Homo sapiens: one gene and its partners. The protein of the gene in region 1 purifies or fractionates together with the protein of each later gene. This does not show direct contact. Each region holds a gene or a part of one and is shown on either strand. Other genes may lie near its edges. The genes, in order: RAB29, ITPR1 and ATP7A.

Region 1 (5,116 bases):
ATAATGTTCACCAGTTGGGAGAGAATATCCAGAAGGGCTGGCTGGCTGGCCAGCCTCTAACAATGCTTGAAAAGGCAGGTAAATCCTGAGTCAGCAAATGGGAAAAGCAAGCACATTCAGTTTTTCAAAAAGGTCACGTTTCCAAGTAGTATTTGGCATGTTCCATCAAGTACTGAATTGGTACTAGGCAGATGGATCTAAGCAATTGGTATTAGTAAGTTAACAGGTAAACAGAATAATATTTACCTTCATTTTAAAAGAAGGTATTTAACCACATTTCTCACTTGTAAGTGGGAGGTAAACATTGGGCACACACATAAAGATGGGAACAACAGACACTGGAGACTCCCAAAAGTGGGGAGAGAGGGAGTAAGCGTTGAAAAAGTGCCGACTGGGTGCTATGTTCACTACTTGGGAGACAGGCTAAGCAGAAACCCAAGCTTTAGCATCACACAATATATCCATGTAACAAACTTGCACACGTACCCCTTGAATTGAAAATTTAGAAAAAGGTATTTAAAAAATAAAGTCTCCATTTCCGCAATCCTCTTGAGCTATCAGTATAAAACAGCACTTTGACAAACTCACATTAAAGGCCAATAACCACCATGAATACAAGACTTAGTTCTCATTTATTTGTGATTTTGCAGGTGTTCAAACCAATGAATGAAAATCAATTATCTCTTCATATCAATGAAATTCACTATTTCACTATTATCTTCAGAATCATAGTGATCAAAACCCTACCTGAAAATGGTAATACAAAAGAGAACTATTAATACAAGGTTTCAGAAGACTGTGCAAGTTAAAATAATTGGCATTAAAACGACACACAACAAACCACCGAAGGTTTGGTCCCTTTTCTCTCTGATATGTGGCCTCTGATCTCTTTCTTAGGGCAGTGGTTTTCAACGTCTGTGTAGCAGAATCACCTGAAAAGCTAACAGAATATATAGAAACCCAGGATTTGTATTTGTATTTAAATGTAAATACAAAAGGTCTGGGTCTCTGTATCTTTACAAAGTTCTCCAGCAATGGTTTCCAAACCAGGCTTATCACAATCACCAGGGAAGCTCTGAAAACAACAACACATTCCTAGGCTTCATCCCTAGAAATTCTGATTCAGTAGGTTTGAGGTCGGGACCCAAAAATCTTTTTCTTTTTGTTTTTTTTTTTTGGAGATGGAGTTTCACTCTTGTTGCCCAGGCTGAAGCGCAATGGTGTGATCTCAGCTCACTGCAACCTCTAACTCCCAGGTTCAAGCGATTCTCCTGCCTCAGTCTCCCAAGTAGCTGGGATTACAGGTGCCCGCCACCACGCCCAGCTAATTTTTCTTATTTTTAGTAGAGACGGGGTTTCAGTATGTTGGCCAGGTTGATCTTGAACTCCTGACCTCAGGCGATCCACCTGCCTCAGCCTCCCAAAGTGCTGGGATTACAGGTGTGAGCCACCACGGCTGGCTCAGGACCCAAAAATCTTAAAACATTTTTAAAAAATTTTAACAAACTTCCCAGGTATTCCCGACCAGCCAGATTTGGGAACCACTGACTTAGGACACTTATTTAAGGTCTATCACAGAACTTCAGGCCTCAGAGTTTAGTAAGAATATCGATAACTTTGGGTAGGTTATAAATCACCATCCTAGAGATAATTTAACAAATTAAATGGTCTAGTAGTGATTTGATACTAAAAAGCCCTGCCCAATTTAGTACTTAAATTACCTAATGATTTTCTGTCTATCTACTTTCCTCCCCCAGGCTAGGACCTGCACATAATATGTTTCCTATGACTAAGTGCCTACGTGTTCACAAAGTTGCCCCAGTGGAGGTTGTTAACTTCTCTCTTTTCTTCTTCCATTCAGATTCCCAAAGCTGTGAGGAGCAGACCTATTTCGAAGCATCACAGCCAGCTGATGTCACTTGCAGTATTATGCATTAAGACATCAACCCAGAAACCTGCAAATGGGAGACACTAGGCAATCCTATCATGAGGATTAAGCTCTTTGTGGAAGAAAATGCTTTCATTGCATGAGATAGGTAGTTTAAAAATGACTATTCTTTTTTCTTTTTTTTTTGAGACGGAGTCCTTCTCTGTCACCCAGGCTGAAGTGCGGTGGCATGATCTCGGTTCACTGCAACCTCTGCCTCCCAGTCTCAAGCGATTCTCCCACCTCAGTCTCCAGAGTAGCTGGGATTACAGACACGTGCCATCACGCCTGGCTAATTTTTGTACTTTTAGTAGAGACGGGGTTTTGCCATGCTGACCAGGTTGGTCTCGAATTCCTGGCCTCATGTGATCCGCCTGCCTTGGCCTCCCCAAGTGCTGGGATTACAGGCATGAGCCACCATGCCCGGCCAAAAAACTTGACTATTCTTGATGCCAAGACAAGAGAAACTTAATTATGACGTTAGAAGTTTCAAAAATACAGTGACTTCTGGGACACTTCTAGTAGCCAAAAATCCACAGATGCCCAGACCCCCTCCTTCTGCATTCCAGAATCAGATGTTTACATTCCAAGACAGAAAGAATCTGAAACAACGGCCTACAAGAAATTTGGGAAATGACATTTGATCTCATTTTCCTCTCAATTGGAAGTCATGATATCAATGAATATCAAATGGAAAAATAAGCTCAGAAGTAGGTGAGAATTATGATCTCTAAAACGCAGGTGCTGATTTCTAATCCTTCTCATAAAATTCCGGATCACAAATTGAGGGCTGATGAGAAGATCTTACACCGAAGGCACTAACTGGCACTAATGTGAGCCAGCAACATGTGAAAGGCTAATCCAGGAGATGCAGAAATGCACATGGGTTCCAGGTGTCTTTTCTAAGTGACAATGGGCCTCCTTACTGGACAGTAGTCAGGAGACAATTCAAATGTACTTAATAAAATTGTCAGGTGGGCAACCAAAGGGAAGAGACTTAAAAGACCTCCCAGAACTGGGATGGAAAATAAGCCAAACACTACTAGCAGCAGGACCAGCTGGAGGACTTGGTTTGTAGATTGATGTAGTCCCCTTGGGTGGACAAAGACATGATATCTTCTGTGGAATTTCTCATCATCTTTTCAATGAGGACTCTAAAAGACAAAAAATAAGCCTGAGAAGCTTATTTTGGAGGAAAAGCAGAAATGGCAGATGTAGTCTGACTTATCATCAGAGAGTATTTGGTAAAGCCAGAAGGTTTAAATGCCCCTTTGTCCCCAGTTATCTCAGGAAAGACAGTATCCCTGACCTTTAGGGGCTAGCATTCCAATGGCTCAGTCTGTCATTGTTGGCTCAGAAATAAGAAAAGAGGGTCCACAGGGCCACAGTGGAAGATGGATACATCTGCATGCCTATCAGCATGAGCTACTTACCTCATAGCCTCATTAATATTTTTGTTCTCCTTGACTGATGTTTCTGTCCAACCTGTGAAACCGTTCTCTTTACTGAACCGGTCAATCTGGTCCCGGCTCACTGCCCAAGGGGACAGATCACACTAGCAAAGAGAAAAAATAAAAGGCAGTATCATAAACTTCCTGCAACTAAGAAAGAATATGGCTCAGATACTGTGGATTTTAAACATATTTCCACCAATGGATAAGAACACCAGCATCGGAAATCTATAATCAACATTCTTCCCAAAGAAAGTCTCACCCTTGGCTGGGCGCAGTGGCTCACGCCTGTAATCCCAGCACTTTGGGAGGCTGAGGCGGGCAGATCATGAGGTCAGGAGAGCGAGACCATCCTGGCTAACACAATGAAACCCAGTCTCTACTAAAAATACAAAAAAATTAGCTGGGTGTGGTGGTGGGCACCTGTAGTCCCAGCTACTCGGGAGGCTGAGGCAAGAGAATGGCGTGAACCTGGGAGGCAGAGCTGGCAGTGAGCCGAGATCGCGCCACTGCACTCCAGCCTGAGCAACAGAGCGAGACTCCGTCTCAAAAAAAAAAAAAAGAAAGAAAGTCTCACTCACCCTCAACATCCTTTGAAGGAGGTAGAGATGATTTTGCCAACTTAAGAAGGGGAAATGGATGCCCAGAATCAGAGAGCATTTTACTTCCTTTCTAACCACAGATAGAGGCTAGGGACCATTTTCTGAGATTGGCCACATACCTTGTTGGCCAAGAGCAGGCAGGGCACCGGCTCTCCATTGGGTAGTGTGAGCTTGCTGTCTAGGTCCTGTTTCCACCTCTGGCTGTTGCTGAAGGTAGTGGCATTGGTAACGTCAAACATAATAACACAGGCAGAGGCATCCCGATAATACAATCGTGTCATAGAGGTGAAGCGCTCCTGCCCTGGGGAGAAAGGGGAGAGTTCTCAAGGTGACCCAAGAGCCGGCCTCTCCCCATTCCTTGTAGAAGAGGGCAGTAAGCATATGTGTCAGATGGGGCCACTCACTTTCCCCCTCTGACTCTTGGTTTTCTATCCCATAAAGGGATAATGAAGCCCAATTATTTCCAAGGCAGATTCCGCACCCAGATTGCTCCAGTCCAAATCCCTGCTCTGCTGCATACTATTTGACTTCGGGCAAATCAAGCTCTCAGTGCTTCAGATTTCTCATTTGTAAAGTGAAGATAAAAGCAGTCGCTTTTTTTTTTTTTTTTTGAAACAGTTTCCTGCACTCCTGTTGCCCAGGCTGGAGTGCAGTGGTGCCATCTAGGCTCACTGCAACCTCCACCTCCCAGGTTCAAGCAATTCTCCAAAAGCAGTAGCTTTTATGATAGGGTTGATGTGAGGATTAATGAGTCAGTGAATTTAAAATACTTAGAAGAATGCTTGGCACATAGTAAGGATTCACTATTTTTACTGTATCTATTTTCTGGGGATCTTGTTTTTCACCAAGGTCAGCCTTAAACCTAGAAAAAGCACCCTCCCCTGCTGTGGGAGTGTCCACCTATAGTCTGGACAATCCACCACCTTGCCAGCCCCTCCATCCACATAGAGACTGCTCCAGATCTATTCAGGGCAAAACATCTACAAAAGCTCTGCACCTATTCAGCTCATGTGTCCTCAGAGCAGCTCAATCATTCCAGCTTCAGAAAAACAATTTCTGGCTTTGCTGCCCCATTTTTTCCTCAGAGCTTTCTAGTTAAATCAAAATTTCTTCCCTTGTTCCTATCTAGCCCTCCC
Region 2 (7,119 bases), on another chromosome or scaffold:
CTGGGGATGAGGATTATTCACGGGTGATTTTACTTTATTTTTCAGATGCTCTGTTTCATATCAATACCTGAAATTGCTTTGTAGTCACAATAGTCACACTGGATGCATTTCTTCACTAACAATATCCAGATGTGAAGAGTTTGGGGAAACCCAGGGATCCGCCCCATCCTGAGAGCAGCTGCTGTGCATGAGGCACCGCTCACCTTCTCATAGGGAATCTGCAGCAGCTCCAGCACCACGGCGTGCGCGCCCATGTTCCGGAGCAGACGCTGTTGCTGCTTCCTGCTCTTTCTCACTGAGGCACTCTCTTGAACACAGAGTTTGCTAAGCCGAATCAAAATCTAGTAGAATGAAAGAAATCAGTCTCAGAAAACTAGGAACTATAGCTGGAAAAAGATTGCAGAGGGTGGTGGCGGGCAGGGAGGCAAAGGGGATTATAATGCATTAAAAACGTAAAACAAAATTCCTTCAGTATGTGGCATTTCTGTTGACTCCATCAAGCCAAATCCATAAGACTAAGGTCACGTCTTCCAGAATAAGCAGGGGATTATGGCTTCAACAACAAGTGGGACAGTTTCAGAGATATCGCTTAAAATGGAATGACCTGGCATCATTGCCGAGACCCTGGGAAGAGTTTGCTCTGGGGTAAAACACACAAAGCTCCCAGCCTCCCAACTTTGAACCAGCGTACGCAAAGGTTTCTAAAAAACTACAGCTCTCAGTGGGGACACTGTGTACCAGGCACTTAGATGACTCCCTGACAGTATTCTCAATTAGTCCTTCCTTCAATTGTAAAGCTTCAGAAATATGCGGTGCCTACGAAAGGTTGCACCTACAAAAGGTGAGGAAGCTGAGGACAAAAATAATAAGTAGAAGAGCTGGGTGTGGAGCCCAGATCTGATGCCAAAACCCATGAGCTTAACCTCTGAGCTCTACTTTCTCCCTGTTAAACCACATGAAGAAAAAAGCTCAAATGTGTGTACCTTCAACTTGACTATCACAAACTAAAGCTCCTTAGAGAATTCATAAAGAAAGGAAAAATGGTGGTGGGGGAGGAGCTTACCTCTTTGACCACTCTGTAGTTGTAGCTGCTGGTGCTTTCATGCTTTTGTGGCTTGTTATTTCCCTCCTAGAAACCAAAGTGAACACAAGTGTGATCTGTACAACTCTTGGGCTACTGTCAGTTTTTTACAGTTAGCATCGACCTTTAGGAAAGAAAGGGAGTTCTATACTGTTTTACAATAGTCATGCTGGGCTTATGCCCCAGTCATCTACCTACTTGCTATGGGTTTCCTTGGGAAGGGATAGTAGTGGGCTGGGCCATGCCTAGAGAACAGGTCAATTCCCAAGTGGGTCTGTAAGGGAAACCTGGTGCTAATTCACTCAATATCGCAGTCTCTTCTACATGGTCCAAGGCTGCACAGGAGACATAGCTAAACTTTGATTCGTAGCTTATTTCCTAGGCAAACAGCTTGTGATCTTGGTGACTTAACAAGCAGATCTCTTGAAAATAAATCCTATCACATTTATACCTAAAACCAGAAGAGGATGCTCCCTAGTTTCGAGAAGCCCATCCATCCACTTTGGCAGCATAACTTGTGTTTCACTCACCTCCGTTTTCTTATGTTCATTTTCTCCAGATGCACCATCCATAGTCTCATCGGGGCCCTGCCCTTTGTACACCCAAAGCTCTGACTTTTCCACGATGGACCTCAGTTGATCCAAGTCTTGTTTGATCTGTTTGTAGTTGTCCACATCTTGGCTGGTAACCAGCAGTTGAACCTTAATGAACGCAATCCGTTAGGTGCACACAACAGCTTCTTGGACAGACAACACACACGTGGGTGACCTGAGCTACCTGTTTGAAGGCCTGGAGCACCTCCTGCCTCTGGCTGAAGTGCCGGAAGAGGAGCTGCAGGGCCCCTGACACCAGGGGTGGGTAGTCATGCATCGTCAAGTGGAGCAGGACACGGAGAAAGGTTCTGCCGCCGTGGTCATCCAAGTCCAGTGGGGTGTTCTCCTCACTAAAGGAGCACAAGGTGGGGAAAGGCCAAATGAATGACAAATGCCTCCTCTCACGCCCCTTGGGCCCAGATGCACCTAACCTAGTTGCATTTCTAGCACTGTGATCTCCAGACATGCAATTTCACTTTTCATTAGCTCCTTTAACAATACAGCCTTGCTTCATCTTCAACTATATTATGAGGTGAGGGGACAAGGAAGATGTCATATTAAAAGATAAGTCAAATTTTAAGCCAAAGTGACAAGACTAGCATTAGATTCTCAACATCTACATAGGGTGTTCTTCTGCTGGGCTTCGTCTGTGGTCTGAGAACTGCAAGAGGATGTGTTTCTCCTAAGTTATTAGTTTATGTATTTAGTTTTTAGAGATGAGGTCTTGCTATGTTGCCCAGGCTGAATTCAAACTCCTATGCTCAAATGATCCTCCTGCCTTAGCATACTGAGTAGCTGGGACTATAGGAATGCACTACCATGCCTGACTATATTTAAATATTAATAAGCATATCCTAGATCAAATGGCAGACTACTCCATAACTGAGCACTGCTAGTCAATTATTGGGTCTGCACCTATATTGGGTTTAGAGTCAAATGAATGACAAATGGTGGAAACTTCCTGGTTGCTGGCTAATAAGAAAAGCACAGAGAAGACTTATAAATACTGTATTCATGCTATGTATTCCAAAAAGGTGTGAAGGTTTCAATGCTGTTCACTATGAGGAAAATGGCGGGAGAGCTGAGTGATCACACAGCACATGGAACCTGTATTATGCTAAACTCACAATACCATGTTTAAGTTTCAGAAAAACATCTTCCATCATAGTACATAATGTTGCTAATTCAAATTTCACAGGTTTTATATTAAGCATTGAGGTAGACTATTAACACTGGTGGGCCCCAACAGAGTGTTCAAACCCTTATGTAGTCCCCTCCCACACTGACAATGAGCTTGGCCATGGGATTTGCTTGAACAATAAGATATTAGGAGATGCAATGCAAGCAGAGGCCCAATTAGCACTTGCATACTGTTGGCTTGTCCTCTTAGAACATTTGCTTTTTGAGTCAGCCACCGTGCTGTAAAGAAGCCCAAGCTATCCACATGGACAGAGAGAGAAAGAAGTTCTGGCCTTGCAGGCATCTCTGCTATAGTGCCAGAAATGTGAATAATCCAACTTGGAGGTGCCAGCCCCAGTTACCACCTCACTACAGTATGACAGACCCAACAGTGACCACCAGCAGAAGAACCATCCAGCTTAATCAAGCCACAGGACTGTAAGAAGTATTAATAAAATGGTGGTGGTTTGAATCCTTAAGTTTTTTGGAGTAATATGTTATAAAGCAATAATCAAACCAAGTGTGCTAATTATAAGAACTATGTGCATATGGTGTTTATACCAAATTTTATACTTGGAGGTATAAGAGTTCCATAATTATAATAATGTCTTAAGTCAAAATTGACCAGTGCGGTTTTTTTTTAAAGGGGTTCATACATTAATATTAGGAACAATGAAAGACCAGATTTTGCTTTCTTTGTTGCATAGCCTGTAAGGAGCTCAGGGATAAAATTGTAGCCCAGCAGCAGCAGCAGGACATGATCTTACTAACTTCACTCTGTTTTGAGCCCCTCTCTCTTTCTATTCTTCTTTTGATTGCATTTCCTCACTATGTAAAAATAATCTTGTAATGTAGGTATTTTGAGAAATCTCCTTAAATCCTTTCTGTCCTAGGTGGGACACACACACACACACACACACACACACACACACTTTCTCTCTCTCTCTCTCTCACTCTCTCTCTCCTCCCAATCAAGCCAACCAAGTTAACTCTGACTTGAGTACTAACAGTTCCAAAGATAGCACCAAAACAACCTAAGCCCAGAGACTAAATATTTACTAACATAATAAAGGGAAGGCCTCTGAGAGCTCTGGAAGAGCAGCCTTCCCTACAAAACAGTAACTGAAAATATACTTTCCTTCCTCCAAAGATGCCTTCTGCTTGTTCTTCAATGTGTTCAAAGTCAAGAGCACCTGAAAAGTTAGAACATACCACTTCAGATGCAGGAAGGTCTGCAAACATGCTGCTGGTGAACTCATCCATAAGTTTTGCAGGGTAAAGCTGTTGAGTTAACCCCAAATCTCCCAGAACATTATATTGCAAAGCTATGCAGAGTGACTAACCCAGATGACATTAACCACATATTCCACATTCCTGCCCCTTCCTCCCTCACTGCATGGTCCCCTGGTAAAGGACAGCAATGATCTCACTCATGGAAGCTTGGGCTTGGTAGATGGGATTATTTCTACTCCTACCATCTCCCGTCACCACTAGTTCCTGGGCAGGGAAAAACTTCCAAAGTGAGTAAAAGCTGCTAGTGGTCAAGAAGTCTCCTGGAGAGTTTTTTGTTACTGTTTTTATTTTGGTATTTTTGCGGGGGAGGTGGGTAGCCACAATGCTGGAAACCTCAACTGTCTCATCACTAAGACACTCCCAGATGGAAGGAAACAAGATCCAACCCAGAAGGAATCTGGGCTCTATCAATTATTCACTTGCTCAAAAAGAGTAACTGCCAGGATGATGCCCTGGTGCAATAATCCTCAAAACCATTTTCACCCTTTTTCTAGAAGATACTGTTTGCTCTCCCCATTTTCCTTAGAGCCAGGTCCCATTCTATGGCTGAAATTCCATTCTGAATCACTAACCTGGTACATTACTTGGCCCTTCTTGGCTGCTGTTTCCGGAGGATGTTTCTGAAGTCTGGGAATTGCTTTCATCAAACTCTCGCTTAAATATACACAGGAGGCAGGAGATCCTATAATCCAACCTCACATTCAAAATAAACTAAAGATTCAAGTGGAAATGGAAACAGATTGGTTACATTAACATACCATCTTGACTCTGCCAAGCCACCACACACTGGCGGGGCCTGGTATCAGCTGCATCAATTACCTTAAGCACTAAGTGAGCCAAGTATTTGGCTTAGATTTCAACAGTCATTTTAACAACAGCAGACTTCCATGGGGCATATGAAGTCTGCCCATAGCACCTTAGCCTCTAGTGTAAGCTTCAGCATCCTGGCAATTAATTTAACAATTGGAACACTAAATCACTCACTCCTGGCTCCATAAATGGAGTCTATAAAACAAGACTCCATTTCAGTAAGTATTGAATGTCAACTCTGGGCCTAACACTGAAAAGAGTGAAGTTGCCTGCTTTGGATTTAAGAGAATTAACAAAAAAAAATTTGTTTTTTACTATGGAAAATTAGCTTGGTTCCTATTTCCTGTTTCTGGTTGTTTCCCCTGGTTTGGGTACAAACCCTTGGACACCCTCTTCTTTTGCCTCCTGTATTCCCTCACCCTTTATTCCAACACAGGGTCACTTTTCCCAGGATTGCTGCTAGAACCAAAAAGAAAGATTGAGCAGCTGACATCATGTAGGGATCTCACTCACGTTCTTCCTTCCGTTCTCCCCTTGTCTCTGCTTAGCCTCCCAGCAACCTTTCCCAGTCCAGTGGCCATCACCTCTTCCAGAGGGAGATAGGTCTCTGGCCTGCCTCCATGCTCTCAGTGTATGTGTCCTACAGACTGTTGGACATCCTATTTGCTATCTTCCCAGGGCCTCAAACTCAGTGTTTCACAAAAGTAACTGCGATGGTTAATTTTATATGCCAACTTGACTGGGTTCAAGGACACCTAGACAGCTTGTACAACTTTATTTCCGGGTAAATCTATGAGGGGGTTTCCAGAATGGACTGGCATTTGAATCAGTGAGCTGAGTAAAGAAGATCCGCTCTCACCCAGTGTGAGTGGGCACCATCCAATCCACGGAGGGCCTGGATAGAGCAAACAGGTGGAGGAAGACCGAATCCACCTGTTCTGGAGCTGGGACACTCATCTTCTCCTGCCCATCAGAGCTCCAGGTTCTCCGGCTTTTGGCCTCAGACTGAGAGTTACACCTTCAGCTCCCCTGGTTCTCAGCCTTGGGACTCAGGCTGAATCACACCACTGGCTTTCCCGGGACACAGCTTGCTGTGGCAGACTGGGGGACTTCTCGGCCTCCGTAACTGCGTGAGGCCAATTCCCATAATAAACCCCCTCTTGTCTATCTGTATGTATCCTATTTGTTCTGTTTCTCTGGAGAGCGCTAACACACTAACATTGTCAGTCTTGCCTTCATCTACTTTCTGCCTGGGTTTCCTCAACCTCAGTCAGTTGCCTGATCATCAGCGCCTCCTTCCTGGACACACATCTAATCAGAGACTAAGTCCTGGTGGTTCTCCATTTACCGCTTCTCATAGAGTTCTCCCCTACTGCCGTTTCTCCCTGCTCAAGGCCTCATTATCTCCTGCCTGTTCCATTTACAGAACCAAATTCACCAAATCAGCCTCCTAACCACTTGTTCTTATGTTAAGCTCCCGCTTGAAGACTTTCAAAGGCTCAACAGAGAATAAGCCTTAGCATTTTAGACACCCAAAGCTCTGTGCAGTGTGGCTTGGTCCTCCTTTCCAAACTCACTTCTGACAACTTCCCCTCAGCACACTCTATGTCTCTGCTCAGCAAGAACTGCCCACTGACCTGCATCCCATGGTACTCGGCTTCAGGCTGCTCCATCCACCTGAGAACGGGCCCTTGTTTCTCCATGTACAAAGCCCATGCACCTTAAAGGCTCAGATGAAACCCTACCTCCTCCATCAACCCTTCTCTGATCTTTACCATGTGGAGTCACATGACCCCACTCCCGGACTCCAGTCTCAGAAGAACTTTCTGGTGGTTTTATTTCCACATCCACGCAGCTTCATCATACCTTATTCTCCCATCAGACTATAAACCCCTGTGGATGGAGCCCCTGTTCGAATCATTTTTGCATTCCTCACAGTGCACATGGTAGGGAGTCAATAAGTACCCGTGGAAAGAATGACTCAATCGACCAATCCTTCTTAGGTCACCACGGTGAGTGGACCTCAAGATGTGACCAAGTTTTGCACTGCGTCGTTTCTGATAAACGTCCAAGACACCACTTTGGAACACATGGACCATGGCCTGCAAATTTTATATGTATATTTTGTCTCGACAAAAAAAATTGAAAATAAAAGTAAAAATA
Region 3 (7,119 bases), on another chromosome or scaffold:
CTGTTACATTTATTTTCAGAGGAACTTTTTTTTTTTTCCGAGACGGAGTTTCACTCTCTTGTCCAGGCTGGAGTGCAGTGGCACGACCTCCGCCTCCCGGGTTCAAGCGATTCTTGTGCCTCAGCCTCTTGAGTAGCTGGGATTACAGGCGCCCGCCACCATGCCCAGATAATTTTTACATTTTTAGTAGAGACGGGGTTTCACCATGTTGGCCAGGCTGGTCTCGAACTCCTGGCCTTAAGTGATACACCCACCTCGGCCTCCCAAAGTGCTGGGATTACAGGCATGAGCCACCACTCCGGCCCAGAGGAACGATTGATATAATGGAAAAATAGTTCCTCTGAAAATAAAAATAACAACATTGGTTCCTAATAAAAGATTAAGAGAAAAAGACAAGCTGTCGAAATATTGGAGCAATGTGGGGAATGAGGAAGGTGGGGTAGGGCAGAGAAGGGAAGTTATTTTTGGAGCAGGGGTTGGGGTTAGAGGACATATGAAAGGAGAGCAGCACAGACCCGGAATCAGACTGCCGCCAGCACTTTCCAGCTCTATGGAGTCTGCCTGGTTTTGCTCATCACTGTATCTCTAGCAGCTAGCATAGTGCCGGGCACATAATGGACATTCAATAAATATTTGTTGAATACATAAGTACCTTTTTTTTTTTTTGAGGCGAAGTCTTGTTTTGCCGCCCAGCCTGGAGTGCAGTGGTGCAATGTCGGCTCACTGCAACCTCCACCTCCCGAGGTTCTTCAAGTGATTCTTCAAGTGGTTCTTCAAGTGGTTCTTCAAGTGATTCTCCTGCCTCAGCCTCCCGAGTAGCTGGGATTACAGGCACCCACCACCACGGCCAGCTAATTTTTGTATTTTTGGTAGAGACGGGTTTTCCTGCATTGGCTAGGCTGGCCTCAAACTGTGACCTCAAGTGATCCGCACACCTCAGCCTCCCAAAGTGCTGGGATTACAGGTGTGAGCCACCACGCCCAGCCAATAAGTACCATTTTGACTTCCTGCCCAAAGATTTAGCACCCAGAGCTGTACTGTGAATTTGTTTCCTTTGAGACCTTAGGTTTGAAAAGTCTCTTTGCTATCTAACATTCAGAGGCAAAGTTGAGTGCTGTTACCCCAAAGAGGGATACTTTTGTTTGTGCTGAGTGTGGTTGGTCAGCTTTTAAAACAGAAATAGAATTTACTAAAGGAAGTGTTTTCTCATCTGCAGCATGCAAATAGCGTAGGGTACTTTGACTTCTCTTTTGTGTAGTATTTTATGCATAGTTTTCTTATGCCTTTTATAAATAAAAGATAGGCTAAAGCAGTTAGAAAGTATAGCAAACCATCCAGTGACAAAGTGATTTTTTTTTTTGAGACAGTGTCACTCTGTCACCCAGGCTGGAGTGCAGTGGCACGACTTTGGCTCACTGCAGCCTTGACCTTCAGGCTCAGGCAATCCTCCCACCTCAGCCCCTTGAGCAGCTGGGACTACAGGAGTGTGTCACCATGCCTGGGTAATTTTTGTATTTTTTGTGGAGACAGGGTTCCACCATGTTGCCCAGACTGGTCTGGAATTCCTGAGCTCAAGCTATCTGCCCAACCACCTCAGCATCCCAAAGTGCTAGGATTACAGGCGTGTGCCACCTGGCCTGAGGAAGTGATTTTTGCTTTTAAAATGAGAACAATTTCTGATTGGCTATGTTGGTAAATTGACATTTTTGGGGGGGGTGGGTGCGGGGGAACCAGGTCTTGTTTAAGATGTACCGGATACAACGTATTTAAAGGGCAAGAATCCTTTACGTTGGTACTTTATCAGAAAAAGTATAGTAGTACCTAGAGCAATACCACCCAAGAATGGTCTGTGATGATGGAAATACTGTGTATCCGCCCTGTCTGGTAGGACTAACCACATTGGCCAATGAACACTTGAAATGTGGCTAGTGCAACCGAGGAACTGAATTTTTAATCTTATTTAATAGTTTTTTTTGTTTTAAAAAATAATCATCTAGTAAAATAGACTTTTTTTGGGTATATAGTTCTATGAAATTTTTTTTTAGTTTTGTGAATGTTAACACATGTATAGATTTGTTTAACACCAACACAACCAGGACATAGCGCAGCCCTGTTACCCCTAAAAAACTCCCTCTTGCTACCATTTTCCCTACCTCTAACCCCTGGAAACCACTGTTCTGTTCTCCATCTTCCCCTTTAGTTGGAAAGTTTAAATTATTTACAGTCATTTTCTTAACCCTAAAATCACCTCAGGGGAGGGAAATTAAAGTTTAAAAGAGGCCTTCTTTAAAAACACAAGGACACAAAAGCCTTCATTTGATGGTGGCTACTCTTATATTGCATGTCTTTCAATACTATATGTCTCAACTATACGTGGTTTGACTATTCTGCATTTTTTTTTCATGGAAAATGTTATATAGTATTATCCAAAACCAAATATAATTTATTTCCCCACTTCTGTTTTGGATCATTTATGCTAGTGATTTCCTCCATCCCTAAGAACCAGCTAGCCAACTAGAATTATCAGAGTCTTAGAAACTTTCCATGCCATGGGTACATTTCACATTTTCACCCAAATACACAGTCATCAATTATCAAGCTAAAGGAAGAAATAAAAATATGTTCATTAAAATAAGTGAAAGATTTAACTATTGTAGACAATTTAAAGAGAGATTTTCTATGCTGAATTACTTTTAATTATAATTTTGAGTTTTTATTTTATAGAGCAAAGCTTTTCACTAGAAATTAATAACACCTATATTTAACTGCTTTTTTGAATATTAATATCCTATGGCCATCTCAAAAATCAATAGGTCCAGCACTGAATTTATCATCTCTCCTTTCCCTCCACTTTAACCTCTTAATTTCCTCCTGATTTCCTCCTCTCTTTCTGATATCAGTTAATGACGCCACCATCTATCTATCCACTGGCCCAAGCCAGATACCTTTAAGTCATCCTAGTCGTCTCCTTTATCCTATACATCTTGTTAGGAGGCCCTACCCTCCTGAATGTATCTTGGAGCTGCCTCTTTTATCTTTGCCCCCAGTATTCATGTCTTAATTCAGACCCTCTATTGCACTACTTTTGCAATTGCAGTAGCCTCCTAGCTGATAGTCCTCCCTCCTGTATCACTCCACCCTACTACACTATCATCTTCCACACTGCCTCCAGAATGATCCTTCTCTAAAATGAAAATCTAATCACATAATTCTCTGCTTAACTTTTCCATGGCTTCCTATTACCTATAGGATAAATCACAACCATTATTGGCATATAGAACCCCATAATAGAGCAGTTGCCTAATTTTCAAGCCTCTTATCTTTCTCTACTTTTTTGTTTCCATTCATCTGGAATTCTCTGCCTCATATATCCTTGCTGATTCCTGTTTGTCCTTTAACATTCAGGTATTATCTCTCCTAAGAATACTTTTCTGACCCATATTCCCAGGGATGAATGGGTATCCCTTTTCTGTATTCTCTGTCCTATTGTTCCTGTGACATGTTCAGCTTTGTATCCTGAGAATCCCAGTTCCTGACGCACATAATAAGTGCTCAATAAATATTAGTTGCTCAATGTTTAATTTTATATAATTCACTGCTGTTACGAAGAACTTTCCTATTTACTCGTATGATCCTTGTAATAGCCCTGGAAGATAATAGGGCATATTTTCTCATTTTTCAGATGGTAGAACTAATGGGTGTGGTTAGCTAATAAGTGGAGAATTGATGCTGGAACTTAAATCTTCTGACTCCCAACCCAGTATTTGTGTGTGTGTGTGTGTGTGTGTGTGTGTGTGTGTGTGTGTGTCTTCATCATGAATCTTTGTAAGATGTCAGCCAAAGAGATGCAATCATGACAGTAGTTAAATTATATGCAGTAACTAAGCTACAAGAATATAATCATTGTTTTATAATCTAATTGGGCAAAACAATAAAGATGTTCTTATTTTGAACAAAATTAATAGTATGCTCTAGTGACTTAGGGGGATATAGGAGTATATGCTATAAAATCCTATGAATACTGCCTTCACTCATAAACCGGCAGGCTTATACTTTTCTTGCCAACAAAGTTATCCTAATTGAACATTATTTTTATTTTTTTAAATTGACATATAATAGTTATACATATTTTTAGGAAATTGGACATTTTAAAATATTAAACTTCATATTACCTTTTATTTTTCTGTAGCTGATCCTGTTTCATGTATAACCTTTTCAGTTGGTAGAGTGTGAAGTGTTGGAGTAATTTATGAAAGGAATGGAAGGAAAGAGTAGTTTGTACTCTGTTGTGAAATTCTTGGGTGTGTTTGTCAATATACATGTTTCAAATGCCTGATAGGTACCACAGTCACATATGTCTGCATATATAACTTTACCATTCTTGTAGGTACACAAGACATTTTATGTTTCTTTCTAACAAGAAGAGTAAAAATGAAAACTAATAGGGAAACTCCATTAGATTGAGTTGTCTCACTCTTCTTGAATGTGGTGTGATGATTATTATTTTAAATCCTGTGTGATAGAATTTAATTAAACTGACTTTTGGAATTTCCTTCCAAAAGGTATCACTGGAAGAAAAAAATGCAACTATTATTTATGACCCTAAACTACAGACTCCAAAGACCCTACAGGAAGCTATTGATGACATGGGCTTTGATGCTGTTATCCATAATCCTGACCCTCTCCCTGTTTTAACTGACACCTTGTTTCTGACTGTTACGGCGTCACTGACTTTGCCATGGGACCATATCCAAAGCACATTGCTGAAGACCAAGGGTGTGACAGACATTAAAATTTACCCTCAGAAAAGAACTGTAGCAGTGACAATAATCCCTTCTATAGTGAATGCCAATCAGATAAAAGAGCTGGTTCCAGAACTCAGTTTAGATACTGGGACACTGGAGAAAAAGTCAGGAGCTTGTGAAGATCATAGTATGGCTCAAGCTGGTGAAGTCGTGCTGAAGATGAAAGTGGAAGGGATGACCTGCCATTCATGTACTAGCACTATTGAAGGAAAAATTGGGAAACTGCAAGGTGTTCAGCGAATTAAAGGTAATGTGTCTGGTGTTGATTGTTTTGTAAGGCTTAGGTGTCTGTTTTGATCTTTTAACTTTTTGCTTTCTTCTTAAGCATGAGTTTTGAATCCATGAGACTAGAGTGCTTGCTGTATCATTGAGGTACAGCATATTCCCAGGATTAAAAGTTAATGATTATAATTAAAGGTTACATAAACCTTGAACTGAAGAAAAGGCAGCTGGGTTGGCAATTCATGGAATTCAAGGTTCTTAACACAACATGACTAGGGTACTCTTTACCTCTAATATATTTTACTTAGGCATGGAGAAACTTGGAGACCATAGCTACAGTGGTCATATCTCTTACTTGTTTCTAGTCTATGCCAATAACATTTTCTGAAAAGAAAAAAAATTAAGAAAATATGATGACAAGAATGAGAGAGAAACAATTATTTGTGGTTATTGATTTAGAAAACAGAATGTTTTCTGAAGTAGCCCAGGAATAACTGAATTAATTATATTTCTTTTTATTAACTAGTCTCCCTGGACAATCAAGAAGCTACTATTGTTTATCAACCTCATCTTATCTCAGTAGAGGAAATGAAAAAGCAGATTGAAGCTATGGGCTTTCCAGCATTTGTCAAAAAGCAGCCCAAGTACCTCAAATTGGGAGCTATTGATGTAGAACGTCTAAAGAACACACCAGTTAAATCCTCAGAAGGGTCACAGCAAAGGAGTCCATCATATACCAATGATTCAACAGCCACTTTCATCATTGATGGCATGCATTGTAAATCATGTGTGTCAAATATTGAAAGTACTTTATCTGCACTCCAATATGTAAGCAGCATAGTAGTTTCTTTAGAGAATAGGTCTGCCATTGTGAAGTATAATGCAAGCTCAGTCACTCCAGAATCCCTGAGAAAAGCAATAGAGGCTGTATCACCGGGGCTATATAGAGTTAGTATCACAAGTGAAGTTGAGAGTACCTCAAACTCTCCCTCCAGCTCATCTCTTCAGAAGATTCCTTTGAATGTAGTTAGCCAGCCTCTGACACAAGAAACTGTGATAAACATTGATGGCATGACTTGTAATTCCTGTGTGCAGTCTATTGAGGGTGTCATATCAAAAAAGCCAGGTGTAAAATCCATACGAGTCTCCCTTGCAAATAGCAATGGGACTGTTGAGTATGATCCTCTACTAACCTCTCCAGAAACGTTGAGAGGAGCAATAGAAGACATGGGATTTGATGCTACCTTGTCAGGTAATTATCATTTTTTCTTTGATTACCCTAATGTTCTTTTACTTCCATTTTGCTGCTTCTTTTGGCATTTATCAATGAGAAATGATTCATAGGCACTGTAATTCCACTTTTGCAAATATGTCCTATGGAGGTAGCCAGCAGTATATACAAAGATGCATAAGGATGTTTGTATAATTGCTTATGATATTTAAAAACTGGAAACAATAACTCGTGGTGCAACAATAAATAACTCATGATGAAATGCTATGAAGTCATAAAACATTATGGTATTAAAGATAATTAATGCCACAGGAAGGTGTCTGAGGTATTTTGTTAAATGAAAAAAAGCTGAAAAGCTATATATACAATGTGATCAAAATTTTATAAAGAAATGTATCTGAATTTACGCCATGTATATATTGTTTATGTATATGAATAAGATTCCTGGTAGGATATGAACCAAAATTTTAACAGTGATTATCTTTGGGTGGTAGGATAAATGTGATTTTTGTTTCCATTGTGTTTCCTGGTTTTATAAGTTGTTTTTACAATAAGAATGTATGTATGTAGCTATGTATTTATATAATGGGGGAAGCCAGTGCTCTTTTAAAAACAAAAGTAGTTGAAATAAATAATAGGATTTTAACTATAATTTTATATTTAGGCATTCAAATTAAACTGACTCCAGAGCTGTCCCAAAGTTTTCGTATTTCCTGACAGCTCTTACCTTTGAACTGAAACAAAAAATGTATATTCAATGGAATTTAATTATGTGAAATTGTTCTTTTGAACCAGAATTGAACCTGGCCTTGAATTAAACTGGAAAATGCCCAAATGAAATTTTTTGCTTGAAATAACAAT

Evidence for each region.
Region 2: the proteins of RAB29 (region 1) and ITPR1 purify together in Homo sapiens (affinity purification with mass spectrometry; 2 studies listed by BioGRID and IntAct, with this or other methods). This does not show direct contact.
Region 3: the proteins of RAB29 (region 1) and ATP7A purify together in Homo sapiens (affinity purification with mass spectrometry; 2 studies listed by BioGRID and IntAct, with this or other methods). This does not show direct contact.

Annotation. Positions count from the first base shown.
Region 1 is NC_000001.11:205,767,373-205,772,488, forward strand, and holds the end of RAB29 (ras-related protein Rab-7L1), read right to left. Parts: intron 4,282-5,116; coding exon 4,100-4,281; intron 3,483-4,099; coding exon 3,361-3,482; intron 3,082-3,360; coding exon 2,970-3,081; 3' UTR 614-2,969; downstream 1-613. UniProt on the Homo sapiens protein: The small GTPases Rab are key regulators in vesicle trafficking. Essential for maintaining the integrity of the endosome-trans-Golgi network structure.
Region 2 is NC_000003.12:4,678,291-4,685,409, reverse strand, and holds part of ITPR1 (inositol 1,4,5-trisphosphate-gated calcium channel ITPR1), read right to left. Parts: intron 4,858-7,119; coding exon 4,719-4,857; intron 4,047-4,718; coding exon 3,992-4,046; intron 2,025-3,991; coding exon 1,859-2,024; intron 1,783-1,858; coding exon 1,612-1,782; intron 1,130-1,611; coding exon 1,064-1,129; intron 342-1,063; coding exon 204-341; intron 1-203. UniProt on the Homo sapiens protein: Inositol 1,4,5-trisphosphate-gated calcium channel that, upon inositol 1,4,5-trisphosphate binding, mediates calcium release from the endoplasmic reticulum (ER).
Region 3 is NC_000023.11:77,983,680-77,990,798, forward strand, and holds part of ATP7A (copper-transporting ATPase 1), read left to right. Parts: intron 1-4,562; coding exon 4,563-5,052; intron 5,053-5,553; coding exon 5,554-6,279; intron 6,280-7,119. UniProt on the Homo sapiens protein: ATP-driven copper (Cu(+)) ion pump that plays an important role in intracellular copper ion homeostasis.